Linked DNA regions of Homo sapiens. The protein of the gene in region 2 interacts with the protein of the main gene of each other region in a pairwise test. Each region holds a gene or a part of one and is shown on either strand. Other genes may lie near its edges. The genes, in order: NID2, GNE and NBPF19.

Region 1 (3,653 bases), on a different chromosome or scaffold from region 2:
AGACTTGAGCTTGGATTTTGGCTTTGCCACTTAACTTTGAGATCATAGGCAATTTACTTAACTTCCCTAAGCTCCTCTGTAAAACTGGGAAAATAGTAGTACTAACCTACAATTCTTGTGAGTTTTAATTAAGATAACATCTGGAAAGTGTTTAGCATGATGCTTGGCAAGTAGTAAGTTTTCAATAAATGTCAGCTCTGAGTAAGCAAACCTGGCTATAGTGGTCTCTTTCTGGTAGCCGAGCAGAGTGGATGGCATGCTAAAAGTGTAAGGTGTTTCTATACCTACCCAGGATTGATTTAATGAAGTCAAGAAGCAGTTAAAGGAGGCCAGGAAGTAACCAATGTATTCTATCTGGCTTCTATATTCAGGAAACGAATAAAAGCGAGGGCACCCCTACCTCCCCTCACACACCCCCCAAAAAACCCTGAAGTCAATAAATATCCTACTGGCACTATCTGTACTGGCAAAATGCAGAAGAGCTTATTATTGCACTAGCTAAGTAAGCCCTCTGGATCATTCATTCATTCACCCATCTATTTATTAAATGCCCATTATGGGCAGACACTGATGAGTCTAAGGAATGGGTTCAATTCATTTTAGGTAATGAAGCCAGAGAGACATCCTCAGACTTCTGGAAACCTATAAATCTTAGTTATTTTTCCTGCAAATTACATTGCTCAATTTAATGTTTAACAGTATCTGTCCAAAAGACTAAATCACAATGTTTCCTCCTGTGAAATGATTAATCTGGAAAACCTCAAACTGGGCAGTTTATGACTGGATATTTTTATGTGGTTCCAAGAGCAATGTTTTTCATAGCAAGCCTCAGTGGCTCTACAAATACACACACATACTGTTCTGTTTCCAGTATCTATACCCAATAGAGCAGGAAAAATAAAGGACCTTTTATGTTTTGGTGAACTTGATCCTTCCAGGGTTGAATCTAGTTCCTTGGTTTTGACTTGATGCCTTACTTAGAAGCCACCAATATATTATGTAATGGTCTTATGGTCACTTGTGTTCAGGTACTTCCTAAAAGTCCTTATATTCAAATAGGAAAGGGCTTCAGCTCAATGTTACTTACTGATAGAGATTTTTCACAGACTGTTCAGTGCTAGTCAAGCTGAAATATGGTCCTTCTGACTTCAGATCATCAGCCTCCCCTCGGCAGAAGCCCACCCGAGCTGGAAGCTGAAGCTGGACATTGTAAGACTCTTTGGGGCGGGTTCCAAGGAACTGCAGGCCGTTGGCAGGATAAAGAAAGAGGGCGTAGCTATCAGACCCATCAGATGCCAAAACTGCCTGGAAAGTGTTCAGCTGTGAGGAAAAAAAAAAAAAAAGAGAGAGAGAGAGAGAGAAACATCCTGTAAAAAACAAATAAAAGAAGAAAGAAACAGAATGCAAGCAAAGCATCATAACGTGCAAAGAACTTCCCCTTTTTCAGGATTCCTCCAAATTGTTTTTAAACATAACCTTCTTTAAAATTTCCTCTTCAAGTTAACAATATAATTTCATAAGCAATATTATTTATTATTGCAAATACCATTTGTCAATTTAGATTAATAGTTGAAATACGCATTGGTAAAACATAGGTTAAAAAATATATACTTTGTAAGGTTTCAAACTTCTCTCATGTAAACTCTTTCAGAGCTAAGAGCAATCAGCAAAATTAACTTGTCCATCCTGCAGTCACTGCCCTAGTTTATAACCCTAGGCACTCAGCATCTCTCATTTGCATCATTCATTCATTCATTCATTCATCCATTTATTAAATGACCACTATGGGCAGGCACTGTGTTAGGCACTAGTTGGTCAAAAGGCCTCCTTACTGTCTCACAGCATCACTCTCTTTCCTCTTCCATCTACCCTTTCATACGAGCATCAGGGTTATCCTCATTTCACAGATGAGAAAAAGACACAGGGGCTAACAGGTCTTCCTCAGGTCAGGTGGCAAGTATGTGGTGGTGGGCCAGCCAGCTCTAGAGCCCACACCCTAGGACACCCTAACCCCTCCTCAACATGGCATTCAAGGTGAGTTGTAACCTGGCTGCATACGTCCCTCCCAGGCTCAGTTCCACTGCATCTTTGTCAGACTATTTAATAGTCCCCATTTGTACCATGTCCTTGGATGCTTCTACACTTTGTTCGTGGTTCCCTGTGCCTAGAAAGCCTCCTAACCTTCAAATGCTGCCACTCAGAGGTGTTTGTGATTCCCTATAGAATAATTTCTGTTCTCTGAACCTCTGTAACACCTTTATGGGCATCTCTAGTGAGCATTCACCTCATTATGCTTGGTTAGTTGTTTATATGTTTGTAAACACCATTCATTTATTCATTCATACACTAATTCAAACAGCCAAGTGTCTACTTAAGCACCAGACGTTATGCTTGATGCTGAGGATGTGAAGGAGCAAAAGACAGGCTTTGCCCAGGAGAGTCTCACGGTGTAGGACTGGGAAACAGCCATGGTTGAAATGGTAGGAGAGTCACTGGAGAAGGTGGTAGAGGCCAAGAGCCGGGGTGTGTGTCCAGGATCTCAGGGTGGAGGTTGGGAGGTGTCACAGAGGCAGCTGGTGAATGTTATAAACACTGCAGGAGCCAACACAGACCAGAGAGGGACCAGGAGCCTGAATCAGCTGCCAATTCAACACCCAGGTCCTTATAGGATCACTCCTTAACATTCTGTTTACCCTCATATTTTCAACAAGATGAGATTTTTGCCTTTACCTTCATTCAGCGACCGCTCCTCCTAAAGATCTGTGAACAGTGCTTGATTCTCAAAAAGCTGTTATGTTTAGGCTTCTGAAACTGTCTCTCTCTCACTAAATCACACTACTTTTACAATTTAGTAAGGAACTGGGAAGGTATTTTTAAAACACAACTTACTTCACAAATAATGTGACTCTTAGAAATATTATTTACTGGTAAGTATCATTACCTTTCCATTCTGCTAGACAGACAAACTCGGGCACAGAGAAGAACATCACATTTCACTGAAGGAAACAGCAAGGAAGGAATGGGCTCTTCCCTTTGTTCTAAGTCTACTCCCACAGTTGTTCTAGCTCTTTTCTAATGTTAATTTTTCCTTTCAATGTTTAATTTCAAAGTAAGGTTTTGAGGTTTTGCTAATAGGATAAAGAAATATAGATGTAACACACTTTTCAAGAGAAAATAAAATACAATCAGCAGTTCTTTTAGTTCTCTAACCCAGAAAAAACAACATCTTGCTTTGCTTTTTTCATTCATTCAATTCACAAAGTAACAGGTGCCTAGTTTATTTGTTATTGTTCCAGTTGTTGATTGTTCATCAGCAAAGCTTGACTTTTCCAAAAACAAAAAGCAAGAAATGTTTTTAGAGCTTCTCAATACTAGGAAGCCACAACTACTGCCAAATATAAACAAAGGCTGTTCTGCCTCATGTCTATCCATAAGATAGTCGACATCATCAACTAATGTGGACTCAATAACTTCAGAGTTATACATTAGTCAGAATAAAGAAAAATCAACTAGGGAAAGAAAAGTACTAGAGGAAGGAGAAAAAACCCCATTTCAAAAAGCTAAGCTTTCAAAGCTCCTGGCATTGATCTGCCATAATAAATGTGAGATAGGAGAGAATCCTGGTTCTAAATTTAGAGAAATTCCATAAGATA
Region 2 (3,653 bases):
TCAGGAATTTGAGACCAGCCTGGCCAACATGGTGAAACCCTATCTCTACGAAAAATACAAAAAAAAAAAAAATTAGCCAGTTGTGGTGGCGCATGCCCGTAGTCCTAGCTACTCGGGAGGCTGAGGCAGGAGAATCACTTGAACCCGGGAGGCGGAGGTTGCAATGAGCTGAGATCACACCACTGCACTCCAGCCTGGGCAACAAGAGTGAGACTCCGTCTCAAAAAAAAAAAAAGCAAAGGTTGAATAATCTGAGAGAACAAGGCGTATTACATACATCTTGATGTATGTAATAAAAAGTCATTTAGTGCACCCTTGTGGCATGAATATATTAATGCAGTCTCCAAAGAGGATCACAAATACAATACTGTATCTGAAAGAACCTTGCGTTAAAATAAAATTGTCCTTTTCAGACTATTCTTTAAAAACAAGGTGGGAATTCGCTACTAGGAAATACTTAAAGAGTAGAGAAGAAACTTAATGGATAGCTCAGGGATCCACAGATTTTTTTTTTTTTTTTTTTTTTTGAGACGGAGTTTTGCTCTTGTTGCCCAGGCTGGAGTGCAGTGGCGTGATCTCGGCTCACTGCAACTTCCACCTCCCGGGTTCAAGTGATTCTCCTGCCTTAGCCTTCCGAGTAGCTGGGATTACAGGCATGCGCCACCATGCCCGGCTAATTTTGTATTTTTAGTAGAGACGGGGTTTCTCCATGTTGGTCAGGCTGGTCTCAAACTCCCAACCTCAGGTGATCCACCTGCCTCCGCCTCCCAAAGTGCTGGGATTACAGGTGTGAGCCACTGCGTCCGTCCAGATTTTTTTTTAATATAAAATGAATTCTGGCTATTTAGGAGCATCCTCTCAGTAGAACAGAAATTTTAGCTAGAGCCTGAGATGAAAGTTTGAGTGGGTTCTTTTACTGCTCTGAGAAAGCTTTGACAGGAAGACTAGTGGAAGAGAGGCTCTCAGGGAAATGGTAGTAGGTTTTTTATCTGCCTACCACAGTTACCAAGGGTGGAAGAATAGTGTTTATCTGATGAGACCGTTAAATAGGAAATTTGACTAGTACTTAATGAAAATGCATGTTTAAGGTACATTCTAACACAAGAAATTGGTTGCTTCTTGGGAGAAGAATTGGATGACTGGGAGACAAAAGTGAGAGACTTTTCACCATGAAATGTTTTCTTAAAGAAAAAAGGTTTGGCCAGGCACGGTGGCTCACACCTGTAATCCCAGCACTTTGGGAGGACGAGGCGGGCGGATCACGAGGTCAAGAGATTGAGACCATCCTGGCCAACATGGTGAAACCCTGTCTCTACTAAAAATACAAAAATTAGCTGGGCGTGATGGCACACGCCTGTAGTCCCAGCTACTCGGGAGGCTGAGGCAGGAGAATCGCTTGAACCTGGGAGGTGGAGGTTGCAGTGAGTCAAGATCGCACCACTGCACCCCAGCCTGGGCGACAGAGCGAGACTCTGTCTCAAAAAAATAAAAAAAAGGGTAAAAAACATTTTCCCCTAAGTGTATATAAAAAGTGCTGACCACTGTTAAAAGTTTAGTCTCTTTCTTCCTAATAAAAAAATTCTCTGGCCGGGTGCAGTCGCTCACGCGTGTAATCCCAGCACTTTGGTAGGTCAAGGTGGGTGGATCACCTGAGGTCAGGAGTTCAAGACCAGCCTGGCCAACATGGCAAAACCCCATCTGTACTAAAAATAGAAAAATTAGCTGGGTGTGGTGGTACATGCCTGTAATCCCAGCTACGCAGGAGGCTGAGGCAGGAGAATCGCTTGAACCCGGGAGGCAGAAGTTGCAGTGAGCCTAGATCGCGCTACTGCACTCCAGCCTGGGCAACAGAGCAAGACTTCATCTCAAAAAAAAAAAAAAAAAAAAAAAAAAGAATCTTAATCAGGCTGTTTACACTTATGGTCTATGCTTTTTATGTTTGTAAGTTATACTTCAATTTATTTATTTTAATGTTTCTCACTTCAGAGTTGGTGTTAGATTGCTTTTCTTGCATGTTACGGCTCTGTGTTTAAGAACATGTTCTTATATCTTTATTTCTCCCCGGCTTTAGAAATACATATCGAATGATTGAACAAGATGACTTTGACATTAACACCAGGCTACACACAATTGTGAGGGGAGAAGATGAGGCAGCCATGGTGGAGTCAGTAGGCCTGGCCCTAGTGAAGCTGCCAGATGTCCTTAATCGCCTGAAGCCTGATATCATGATTGTTCATGGAGACAGGTTTGATGCCCTGGCTCTGGCCACATCTGCTGCCTTGATGAACATCCGAATCCTTCACATTGAAGGTGGGGAAGTCAGTGGGACCATTGATGACTCTATCAGACATGCCATAACAAAACTGGCTCATTATCATGTGTGCTGCACCCGCAGTGCAGAGCAGCACCTGATATCCATGTGTGAGGACCATGATCGCATCCTTTTGGCAGGCTGCCCTTCCTATGACAAACTTCTCTCAGCCAAGAACAAAGACTACATGAGCATCATTCGCATGTGGCTAGGTACGTATCTCAGACTTTAGTCAGTCTAATGGCTGTTTTTGTCAGAAAATGTTCCGTCTATTTCAATCCTTTTGGAAACTATTATGGATAGAATACTCTGTTAGCAATGAGAAGGCCAAGGTTTTAGTTCATAGACCTTGCCCTGTGGTATGACTTTACCTCTCTGAGGTTTACCTTTTCTGTAAAATAGGCTTAGTGGATTGAGTTTTAAAAATCTCTGCTATATTTATAGAATGGAATGCTTTTAATCCATTAAATATATTAGTTATAAGAACGATCCTAATATGTCAAAAGGGGGAGCTATAAAATTATAAGTGTAATATGCCATTTCATTTTATTTTATTTATTTTATTTTTTGAGATGGAGTCTTGCTCTGTTGCCTAGGCTGGAGTGCAGTGGTGTGATCTTGGCTCACTGCATCCTCTGCCTCCCAGGTTCAAGTGATGCTCCTGCCTCAGCCTCCCAAGTATGTGGGATTGCAAGCGTGGACCACCATGACCGGCTAATTTTTCTATTTTTAATTTCACCACGTTGGCCAGGCTGGTCTCGAACTCCTGACCTCAAGTGATCCGCCCACCTTGGGCTCCCAAAGTGCTGGGATTACAGGTGTGAGCCACTGCACCCAGCTGTAATCTGCCATTTTACTAAAAACTGTAATAATGGAATGGTTAGGAAGTATGTACACCAAGTCATTTATTATATTTATTTCTGGTGTGGGATTATGGGTGTTTTTATGTTTGATTTTCTGAATTTTTTTTTTGTTTTTTGAGACAGAGTCTTGCTCTGTCATCCAGGTTGGAGTGCAGTGGCACAATCTCGGCTCACTGCAACCTCCACCTCCCAGGTTCAAGCGATTCTCCTGCCTCAACCTCCCGAGTGGCTGGGATTACTATGCCTGGCTAATTTCATATTTTTAGTAAAGACAGGGTTTTTCCATGTTGGCCAGGCTGGTCTCGAACTCCTGACCTCAGGTGATCCGCCCACCTCAGCCTCCCAAAGTGCTGGGATTACAAGCGTGAGCCACCGTGCCTGGCCTGATTTTCTGAAATTTTTTACTACATTGGCAAAATGGTCATTTTTTTTTTTTTTTTGAGATGGAGTCTTACTCTGTTGCCTAGCCTGTAGTGCAG
Region 3 (3,653 bases), on a different chromosome or scaffold from region 2:
CAACCTACATGTGCCTATAGGTCCTCCCTGTGGCAATGACATCTCTCAGCTCAGTAAGGGCCACTTGCAGTAGGAATATGACCCTAACCAGAAGACTCAGTGGATCCTTATCACCTTCATAGAAAGGTACTCACCATCCATGTCAACAGCCAAGCCAACACACTGTTGCTCCAATATGTAAAAGGCACTTCTGTAGGGCTGGCATGAGTCAGTCAGTTCAAGACAACCTGAAGGAGTTGAATAACATCTATCCAGTGAGTCCTGCAAGACTTCAGGCCCTTTCTCATCCAGCAGCTCCCTGCTGAGCCTGGAAAAGTGGGAAAAAGTAAAGAATAAGCCAGGGGGAATCAGAAACCGCACAGCCCCAGCTAGATTTCATGGCTAACGTTAAGGAAGAGTTTGAAAAGAAAAAGGACAGATCCATTAATGAGGTAACAAATTATTGCCTTTATGTTGGGATAGAACAGGGCCAGGTAGAAAACAATGAAAGAGAAAGACAGAGAGAGAGAGAGAGAGAGACAGAGACAGAGAGAGAGACAGAGACAGAGACAGAGAGAAAGTGACCTAGTGAATTGGCCAGGTGACATACTGGTAAGGGAGTAAAAGGACACTCTGAGTTAGTGCCCTCATGACACACAGCAAACTGTGATCATGAAAAGAGTGAGCTCAATAGTTTTCCATAAAATATGCTCAAAATTCGATGCAGTGGCCATGAGAGTACAGCTTTTGAAGTATGGTCAACCTATGGTACGTTAGGAAATGATAAGGGGAGGAAGAAATGGAAACCTAAACATCTACTGCAATGAAAACCAACAGCAATGACAGTAGGAGTAATTCAGCCTTCGTTGAAAACATGACATCAAACACACTCTGGTTTCCCTGAATCTGTTGCCTCCAGGTGTTAACACAGAATTAAGCATCCACAATTGCTGAAAGTCACCTGGGGCATGGTGGGTTTTGATCTTCTTCCCCTTCTTTTCTTCCCCTTCTTCTTTCCTTCTTTGATCTTCTTCCCCTTCTTTTCTTCCCCTTCCCCTTCTTTTCAATTTCTGCAATAAATTCAGACATGGACAGACACATTAAGCTGATTCCCCTACACACATAACAATCCACTGTCTAATCCTCACACAGGGACCTCAGGCTCCTCAGCATAAGAATAGGACACTGTGAGAGATATATTTCAGGAGGCCTGAAGGCTGGTCATGATAGAAATTCCTCGGTTTTTCTCCCAGAAACTGTGGGTAAAATGTCCCTATTCTAGTAGATCGTTATCCCAATATCATTTGTCCCAAGTTTGTGCAAACAGTTATGCCATATTTTTCCAATCAATTTAAAGCAAATACCCTCAAATGATTTCTAGGAGAAAAACTGCAATATTTAGCCCTGTCTCATCAAATACTCAGATTGTTCATGGTTGTGAGGACTTTAGACACTGAAATTAGAGTGAAAAAGGAAATCTACAAACCCTTGAGTCAAAATCATAGTTCTCTGAATTTGTCACATCTGCCCAGGTCCAATGTCATGAGAATAGGATCAGGGCGCCACAGGTATGGCCTGAGACTAGGAAGAGAGTCTTGCTCACTGACCCATCCCTTGTCTGGGCTTCCAGGTAGAACTAGAGTTTCATTCAACCTACATGTGCCTATAGGTCCTCACTGCGGCAACGACATCTCTCAGCTCAGTAATGGCCACTTGGAGCAGGAATATGATCTTTATATGGAAGACTCAGTGGATGCTTATCACCTTCATAGAAAGGTACTCACCTCCCACGTCAAGAGAAAAGCCAACATGTTTTTCCTCCAATGCATAAAAGGAACTTCCATAGGGCTGGCAGGAGTCAGGCTGTTCAAGACAACTGGAAGGAGTTGAATAACATCTATCCAGTGAGTCCTGCAAGACTTCAGGCTCTACTACCTCCACCAGCTCCCTGCTGAGCCTGGAAAAGGAGGAAAAAGTAAAGAATAAGCCAGGGGAAATCACACACAACAGAGCCCCAACTAGGTTTCATGGGTAGCATAGGGAAGTGGTTAAGAAAGTAAAAGGATAGATCCATTAATGAGGTAACAAATTATTGCCTTCATGTTGGGACAGAACAGGGCCAAATGGAAAAGAATGAAAGAGAAAGACAGATGGACACACACACACACACACACACACGCACACACACACACACACACACACAGAGAGAGAGAGAGAGAACGAGCTCAGTGAATTGTCCAGGTGACACACTGATGAGGGAGTAACAGGACACTCTGAGTTAGTGCCCTCAGGACACACAGCATACAGTGATCATGAAAAGACTGTGCTCAATAATTTTCCATAAAATGTGCTCAAGTTTCCATGCAGTCGCCATGAGAATACAGTTTTTGAAGTCTGGTCCACCTACAGTAGGTTAGTAAATGATAAGGGGAGGAAGAAATGGAAACCTAAATATCTACTGCAATGAAAACCAACAGCAATGTTAGTAGGAATAATTCAGGCTTGCTTGAAAAGATGTAATCGATAATGTCAGCCCGCTCTGTTTTCCCTGAACCAGGAGTCTCCAGATGTCAACACAGAAGTAGCTGTTCACAATTGCTCAGTTACCTGGGGCATGGTGGGTCTTGGTCTTCTTCCTCTTCTTGGTCCTTTTTAATTCCTGCAATACATTCAGACAGGGACAGACAAAATAAGCCAATTCACCTACACCCATAACAGTCCACTGTCTAATCCCCACACAGGGATCTCAGGCTCCTCAGCATGAGAACAGGACAATGTGAGAGATATACTTCAGGAGGCCTGAAAGCTGGTCATGATATTCTTTGGTTTGCATCTCAGAACCAAGGGTGAAATATCCCCATTCTGGTAGATCGTTATCCCAAAATCACTTATCCCAAGTTTGTGCAAACAGTTATGCCTTATTGTTCCCATCAGTTCAAAGAAAATGCCCCAGATGATTTCTAGGAGGAAAACTGCAGTATTCAGCCCTGTCTCATCAAATGCCCAGCTCGTTCATGGATGCAAGAATTTTAGACACTGAAATTAGAATGAAGGAGGAAATCTACAAACCCTTGAGTCCAAATCATAGTTCTGTGAATTTTTTGCATCTGCCTGGGTCCAATGTGCTGAGAGCGGGCTCAGGTTGCCACAGGCATGGCTGGAGACTAGGAATAGAGCCTTGCTCACTGACCCATTTCATGTCTAGGCTTCCAACTGAGACTACAGTTTCATTACAACCTATATGCGCCCACAGGTCCTGCCTGCGGCAATGACATCTCTCGGGTCAGTAAGGGCCACTTGGAACAGGAATATCACCCCTATCTGGAAGACCAGGTGGAGGCTTATCACCTTCATAGTAAGGTACTCACTGTCCACGTCAAGAGCCAAGCCAAGGTACTGTTCCTCCAATGAGTAAACAGCACTGCTGTAGGGCTGGCCTAAGTCAGGCAGTTCAAGATAACCTGAAGGAATCGAATAACATCTATCCAGTGAGTCCTGCAAGACTTCAGGCTCTTTCTCATCCAGCAGCTCCCTGCTGAGCCTGGAAAAGTAGGAAAAAGTAAAGAATAAGCCAGGGGGAATCAGAAACCACACAGCCCCAGCTAGATTTCATGGCTAACATAAGGAACTGTTTAAAAAGAAAAAGGACAGATCCATTAATGAGGTAATGAATT

The links.
Region 1: the proteins of GNE (region 2) and NID2 interact in a two-hybrid assay, tested with the Homo sapiens proteins (one large-scale study listed by BioGRID).
Region 3: the proteins of GNE (region 2) and NBPF19 interact in a two-hybrid assay, tested with the Homo sapiens proteins (one large-scale study listed by BioGRID).

What each region holds. Positions count from the first base shown.
Region 1 is NC_000014.9:52,059,037-52,062,689, forward strand, and holds part of NID2 (nidogen-2 precursor), read right to left. Parts: intron 1,321-3,653; coding exon 1,088-1,320; intron 1-1,087.
Region 2 is NC_000009.12:36,244,901-36,248,553, reverse strand, and holds part of GNE (bifunctional UDP-N-acetylglucosamine 2-epimerase/N-acetylmannosamine kinase), read left to right. Parts: intron 1-2,071; coding exon 2,072-2,523; intron 2,524-3,653. UniProt on the Homo sapiens protein: Bifunctional enzyme that possesses both UDP-N-acetylglucosamine 2-epimerase and N-acetylmannosamine kinase activities, and serves as the initiator of the biosynthetic pathway leading to the production of N-acetylneuraminic acid (NeuAc), a critical precursor in the synthesis of sialic acids.
Region 3 is NC_000001.11:149,498,940-149,502,592, reverse strand, and holds part of NBPF19 (NBPF family member NBPF19), read right to left. Parts: intron 3,521-3,653; coding exon 3,348-3,520; intron 2,639-3,347; coding exon 2,587-2,638; intron 1,937-2,586; coding exon 1,764-1,936; intron 1,050-1,763; coding exon 941-1,049; intron 308-940; coding exon 135-307; intron 1-134.